Linked DNA regions of Homo sapiens. The protein of the gene in region 1 interacts with the protein of each later gene in a biochemical or structural test. Each region holds a gene or a part of one and is shown in the gene's direction. Other genes may lie near its edges.

Region 1 (3,500 bases):
TCATCTCTACCTATCTTCCCAAACTCACCTCTTCCTTTTATTGACTTGGCTCCAACCACACAGTCCTTTCAGGTTCTCCATGAGCCTTCTGCCTAAGAACCTTTATCATGCTGTTTCTTCAGCCTAGAATGATTTCCCTTCCTGACTCCCTGTTGTTTCTCACCCTCACCCATACCATTTTTCTCCCATCCACCCAGAATTCTGCTTAAAAGTTACCTCCTTGGAGAGCCTTCCCTGATGACTCAATCAAAAGTGTTCTTTCTCACAGCATCCCTTTTTTCTTTATATCACTTCCCTGCCACTATTATTTACTTTTAAAATATCTGCCACCACCTCCCCACCACAGGGACAGTGACCCTGTCTGTTTTATCATTCCATTCCTAACACCTGTACAAAGTAGGCAGTAAATATTTATTGAATTCCTGAAATCAATTCAGTAAATATAGATCAATCTTTATGTCAGGCTCTGTGCTAAGTGCTAAGAATGAAAACATAAAATAAAATATAAATAAATAAATAAAATGCCTATCCTCAATAACACTGCATGGAGTGGAGAAAGCAGAGAAGTAACAAGAACATTACAGCATAGCTTATAAGAGTTAGGATGGAGTAAATACAGGGTGCTGAGGGACACAGAGGTAGAGCACCCAAGCCAGACTCTGGGTAGTCATGGAAGGTCTTCTAAAGGAGGTGACATTTATATGGGGACCTGAAAGATGAGTAGGTGTCACATCAGCCAGGAAAAGGGGCCAGGAAAAGGATCCCAGGACAGAGAGAACGAATGCCTGATCTCCCAGAAGCAAAAGAGAACAAGGAATTTTCCAGGAACTGGAAAAAAAAAAAAAAAACCCAGCAGGAATGATTGATCATAGACTTATGAGACATGAGGTTGTAGAAAAGGTATGGGGCAAAGTTAAGCCTCACTGGTCAATATAAGGACTTTGGACAATGGATAACATTTGAAGGAATTTAAACAGAGTACTGACAAGATCAAATCTGTGTTTTAGAAAATTCATTCTGGCTTCAAGGAAGATAAATGAAAAGGTGTCAGTGAGGAGACAAGAACACCAGTTAAGAGGCTATTGCTGTATTCCAGGAGAGAACAGATGGTTGCCTGAATTAGGGGTAGTAACTGTGGGATTGGAGAGAAGGGTTTAAGATATTCAGGAAGCAATCCCGACCTTGATACTAACTGGGTGTGAAAAAGAGTGCAGTTTCAGGCAGTTGTGCTAAGAGGTGGGTCAGGGTATAAATGGAAGAGCTGCAGGTAGTTAGAGGAGAGACACTCCATTCAGGTCTCTTGGAGGAGGATTTGGGGGAGGTAGAGGAGATGAAGGGTAGGTATGTCAGTGAAAATGGACATCTCTGTACCATGCACTCAACAGGCACTATGTCACACTCTCAAATTATTATTCCTGTAATTACAAATTAAGAGACTGAGGCTCAGAGAAGTTACATGGATTGTCCAAGCTCACATAGCTGGTGAGAGACTGAGCCAGGTTTGAAACCCAATCTAATCCTACGTCTGTGCTCTTAAACAGAACACCAGGCTCAGAGGTCACATCACCCTGATCCTTCCAGTCACTGCCCTGTCTTGCCCCTAGCAGGGAAGAGGTGGGGGCAAGTTCTCTGCAGGGGATTTGAGTGGCGGGGATTGGGTGGGGAGAAGAAGTTCTGGACTCCCTGGTGCTGACCATCTCTCCATACAGAGGCTGGTGTGAGTGGCGGGAGCCATCTGTGGGCGCCATGGCAAAGAGGGAGGACAGCCCTGGCCCAGAGGTCCAGCCAATGGACAAGCAGTTCCTGGTATGCAGCATCTGCCTGGATCGGTACCAGTGCCCCAAGGTTCTTCCTTGCCTGCACACCTTCTGTGAGAGGTGAGGGGATGTGTGTACTGGGGAGGGATGAGGACCCTGTGGGGAGGATGAGGATCCTCCTCCCCTGTGGGGAGGGTGAGGGAGCATGTGTAAACCTGTAGTAGGTGAGGCAACATGCTTACCTGGGAGGAGAGCAGGTGAACCCCAACCTGCAGGAAATGAGGTTTTGAGGGCAAGAACCTGTGAGAGAACCATAAGAACCATAACACTGGGCCATGGTTCCTGTCAAGAATAGGGCCTTCTCTGTCCTTTCCCAAACCTCAAGGCAGCTTTTGACACCACCTAAGAAATCAAACAGTGCTCAGACTCAACCAGCTTTGGCATCAGCAATTTATGACTAGTTGGAGGATATTTGAAGTTAGGTCTGTCCTTCCCTGCTTGTCCTTGTTGTCCTCAGGTACTGAGTGAAAGGCAACCTGTCCCAGCCTCTAGGCTTCTATGGATCACTTATTCATTTAACAAATATTCATTTATTGAGCAACTACTATGTGCCAGACCCTGTTCTAGGCATTGGGTATGCAGTGATGAGCAAAAACAGATAAGATCCTTACTCTTTTTTTTTTTTTTTTTTTTTTTTTGAGATGGAGTCTCGCTCTGTTGCCCAAGGTGGAGTGTAGTGGCACGATCTCGGCTCACTGCAACCTCTGCCTCCCAGGTTCAACCAATTCTCCTGCCTCAGCCTCCGGAGTAGCTGGGACTACAGGCGCACGCCGCCACGCCCAGCTAACTTTTTGTATTTTATTACAGATGGGGTTTCACCGTGTTGCTCAGGCTGTTCTTGAACTCCTGAACTCAGGCAATCCGCCTACCTCGGCCTCCCAAAGTGCTGGGATTACAGGCGTGAGCTACCGTGCTTACTCTTTTTAAAAACTGATACACAATAGTTTACATATTTATGGGGAACATGTGATACATTGTTACACAAGCATAGAATGGGTAACAATCAAGTAGGGTATTTAAGGTATCCATCACTTACAATGCTTACTCTTAAAGAGCTAACAGTATAGTGAAAGAGAAAGATAGTCATCAAATAATCATATAGCCAGATTATAGATAAATATAACTTTTAGTAAGTGCTGCAAATAAAGTGCTGAGCTATGAGAGATTGGCATATGGAATCTGTTATAGTTTGGAGAATCAGGGAAGGTTTCCCTGAGGAGCAATTCAGAGGATGAATAGGAGTTAACTAGGTAAAGGGGGTTGGAAGAGCATTCTGCACAGAAGAAAGACCATTGGAAAAGCTCATGTGACATGAGAAAATATGTCAGGTAAGAGGCCTGGAGGAAGCCTGGTAGGGCTAGAGCAGAGTGAGTGTGACTGAGAGTATTATGGGATGAAGCTGGAGAGGTAGGTGGAGGCCAGACCACCTAGGGCTTTGTAGACCTGTTAGGGAATTTCACCTTTACCCTGAGAGCCACATGAAGCCTTTGCAGGGTTTTATATGTGATCACATCTGTATTTTGACAATATTCTCTTGGGCCCTTATCTCTCATTGTTCTGTCTTGGGTGGCCTGGTCCCTAGGTCTTCTCACCACCACTGCCTCTATCCGCACTTTTCCTCTGCCTTCTGCCCCAACGGAAACCTGGCTCTGCACCAGAGATACTGCTTCCCTGCCAGCCCTG
Region 2 (3,500 bases), on another chromosome or scaffold:
ATTTCTTTTATGGCCCTGAAAGCAAAAGACAATGTTCTCTTTTAGTTTCCTGCAATTAAATGATGTTAGAAATAGTCATCTTCACATTGGCGTACTTCCTCTTTCTTCTGTAGGTCTTTTAGAATTTTGAGTCCATTCTCATATTTTCTTGTTTCATTTGCTTTATTTTCTAATACATAGAAGTTTAAACTCCCTTTAAAGAGTTTTTGGCCTCTTTTACCCTATTAAGCTTTCTTTTTTCTTTTCTGTTTTAGTTGTTCCATCTGTGTATTCTCAGATATTTTTCTTTCACCTTTTCTGGTTTATTTCTTTATTGACCTGTCTCATCTGTTATTTTAATGAAATTTGGAACAGGGCTAAACAGAGTTCCTACCTCAGCCAGTATAAGAATATACCGTAATAACTCAGAGTGGTATTAACTAGATTAAAAGTTTCAAAAAGTGATGTTTTTCTTGTCTCTGAGGATAGAAACTTCAACAAAATAAAGAAGAAATTTTCAATTAGTAGAATTTCTTTGAAAGTTTGTTCATTCATTCATTTGGCTACCTTATTCCAAATTGAGTCATTCATTGAGGGCTTAGACTATATAAAGTGTGGTTTTGTTTTCCCAGCAGTTCATGCAACAGCATTGCACCTAGCAGCTGGGAAGTCTTATAGCATGAATAGGTGAGATTCTAATACCAGAATCTCCTGCATGTGTAAACTAACAGTGTAGTCTTGACTGTTGTCTCCCAGTAAACTTGGTTTCAGGAGTTTTAGATCCATGTGAACGTGTACAAGGCATTTTTGCTAACTGTAACTTCCCACTTAATCAACAAAAACAAAAACACTCATTTCTGAACATTCAGTGCATTCATGATTAATCTTAATTACACCACAAAGGTATTTTTCAATGGTGATTTTGCGGGAGTGGGGTAACAGTTTCGAAAGCAACATTGTCAGAAACATAGTTGATTTTAAAGGTTCTTTCTGGTGACTTTGACTTCTGCTTTTTTAGAAGACCTTACACAGAGTTGTATTTATTTCTCCTGGAATATTTCAAGCAATTCAGAGTGAAAGGGTATACATTCCAATTTGCGTATGAGATAAAATTTAGTTACATTGAGAAGCTATTTTCTTTAGTTACAGGGAAAAAATTGTAGGGCTTTTGGAAGCCTCTTTGATTTCTAATAGGAGGAATCCCTGAGCACTGGTCCAAACAGAAATCATCTCTTCTTCATTGCTGTATTTCCCTCAAGCTCTTAGCAAAGTGCATGGCACGTGAAAGCCCGGAGAAGCTGTTGGTTGAAAGAATGGATGGTGGTGGGCAGGAAGCATCAGGGACATGGTTTGCTTCAGTCTATTGGCTGGGAGAAAGGCCATTTAGGAAGGGATCCTTAGATGCCACTGGAAGAATGTGGGAAGTTTGTGAATCTCTCTTTCTCAGGAACAAAAGTAGAAAAAGGACTCCACACAGCATTCCAAGTACAGTCGGCCCTCATTATTCATGGATTCTGTATTTGCAAATTCGCTGACTTACTGACGTTTATTTGTAACCTTCGAGTCAACACTCACGGTGCTTTCTCAGTCCTTTGCAGACGTGTGGAATGGCAAAAAAATTTGAGTTATATGACGTATATGTTCCCAGCTGAGGCTGAGCAAGGCTCACTTCTCCTTGCAGCCCTCAGACTATAAACAAGTGTCCCTCTTGCTATCTACTTCGTGTTATGATTTTTGCATTTTCATAATCCCTGTTGATGATTTTGCTGTTTAAAATGGCCCCTAAGCATGGTCCTGAAGTACTGTCTAGGGATTCTAAGACAAGGCTCTGACGTGTCTTAAGAGAAAATACGTGTTTGATAAGCTTTATTCAGGCATGAGTTACAATGCTGTTGGCCATGAGTTCAATGATGGTGAATCAACAGGATATATTAAATACAGTGTTTTTGAACAGAAAAACATATAAAACAAGGTTATGTATTAATGAGTTGGCAAAAATGCTGTGACCAAAGGCTCCCAGGAACCTACCCTATTTTCCCCTCAATGCAATGGTTCAGTATTTGCTAATTCAGTGTTTGAGGTGACTTTATAGAACATGAGTACCATGAATAATGAGAATCGATTCTGTATAATAGAGTGATGAAAGCACAGGTCTGGGAGCCAGCAGCTATATTTCTATTCTGGCGTGACTCCTGTGTAGTTGTCATCACTGGCAAATTGCTTAACTGTGTGCCTCAGTTTCCTAATCTGTAAAAGCTACATCGTTTGGATGATGTGAGGATTAAACAAATTCATAGATGTCTAGGGCTTATAACATTCCTGGCACATAACAAGTCATTATTTTTTATTACTACTTCGGAAGGGAATTGAGTACTATACCCTGAAGAAGGTGAGTATGGGAATTCTCTACGGGTCTGGAATGTCCCTATATTTGTTTATTTTGCCTTCAAGTGACTAACTTTAATACCCTATTGTGATTAGAAGTTAAACTTCTGCAACCAAAAGGAAGCAGGAAGCTAGTATTTCTTGAAGTGCTTATTACATGCCAGGTACTGTGCTACAAAAACAAAACAAAACAACTGTAAAAAAAACTTCAAATTTGGCTGCGTGCAGCTGCTCATGCCTGTCATCCCAGCACTTTGAGGAACTGAAGGGAGGATTGCTTGAGTCCAGGAGTTCCAGACCAGCCTGGGCAACACAGTGAGACCCTGTCTCTACAAAAAAACAAAAACAAAAACAAAGGCACTCCAAATCAGTAAAAATTAATCAATCAATAAAAAGAGTGAGGGGCATTAAGTATTGTGGACTGAAGCAATCCCAGAGAGGGAATTAATTGAAGCTGAGGTAAGCAGCTTATGGAGAAGCTATGATGTACAGAGGGCAAGGAAGGAATTTTTCTGTAATTTGGAAAAATGGGAACTGTGAGAAAGAAGGAGTTGGAAGCTCATACTTAGGGAGCATCTACAAGGACGTCTTTTTCACGTTGGTTGGAATATCCAAATCAAGGATTATTTCAGAATCACCCAGATGATTAAAAAACTACTGAGATCCAGGTTGTATTTCAGCAGTTCTGACAATTGCTCTGGGTCGAAGCTTGAATCAGTAGTTAAGAAAAACAACAAACAAAACAAATTTTGGGGCTTTTCTCACTGATTTACAGTTAAAGCTCATTTACTCTTCCTATGACTTTAGATGGAGGATATTTCCAAGTCTTCAGGATGGAGACATGGAGGGAAGTGAGACTAGTGATGTGCCTCAAGGTTTTGCTGTTGTTCTAACCATGAGGAGCACTATTCAAACCCAGGTCTGCTAGATTTCCAAGTCTTCATTTCCTTGGGCCTCTTGGATTTCAGAAGCAGAGGGTAAAAGGAGTGCTGGGGAGAAAGATCACAGTAGCTTTCAATTCTACTCCTCAGCTTTCCAAAATAAGTTTCAAGACTGGCCGTTGCATTTGATATGGAATAAATACAAAGAAGGTAGATTGAAGGGTATGAAGATGCAGATTTTTGATACCAGATATG

The links. Proteins that work in one complex are often made in the same cells at the same time.
Region 2: the proteins of TRIM3 (region 1) and ESR1 form a complex in vitro, tested with the Homo sapiens proteins (one study listed by BioGRID).

What each region holds. Positions count from the first base shown.
Region 1 is NC_000011.10:6,463,942-6,467,441, reverse strand, and holds part of TRIM3 (tripartite motif-containing protein 3), read left to right. Parts: intron 1-1,709; coding exon of another isoform or gene 1,710-1,746; coding exon 1,747-1,877; intron 1,878-3,500.
Region 2 is NC_000006.12:151,814,182-151,817,681, forward strand, and holds part of ESR1 (estrogen receptor), read left to right. Parts: intron 1-3,500.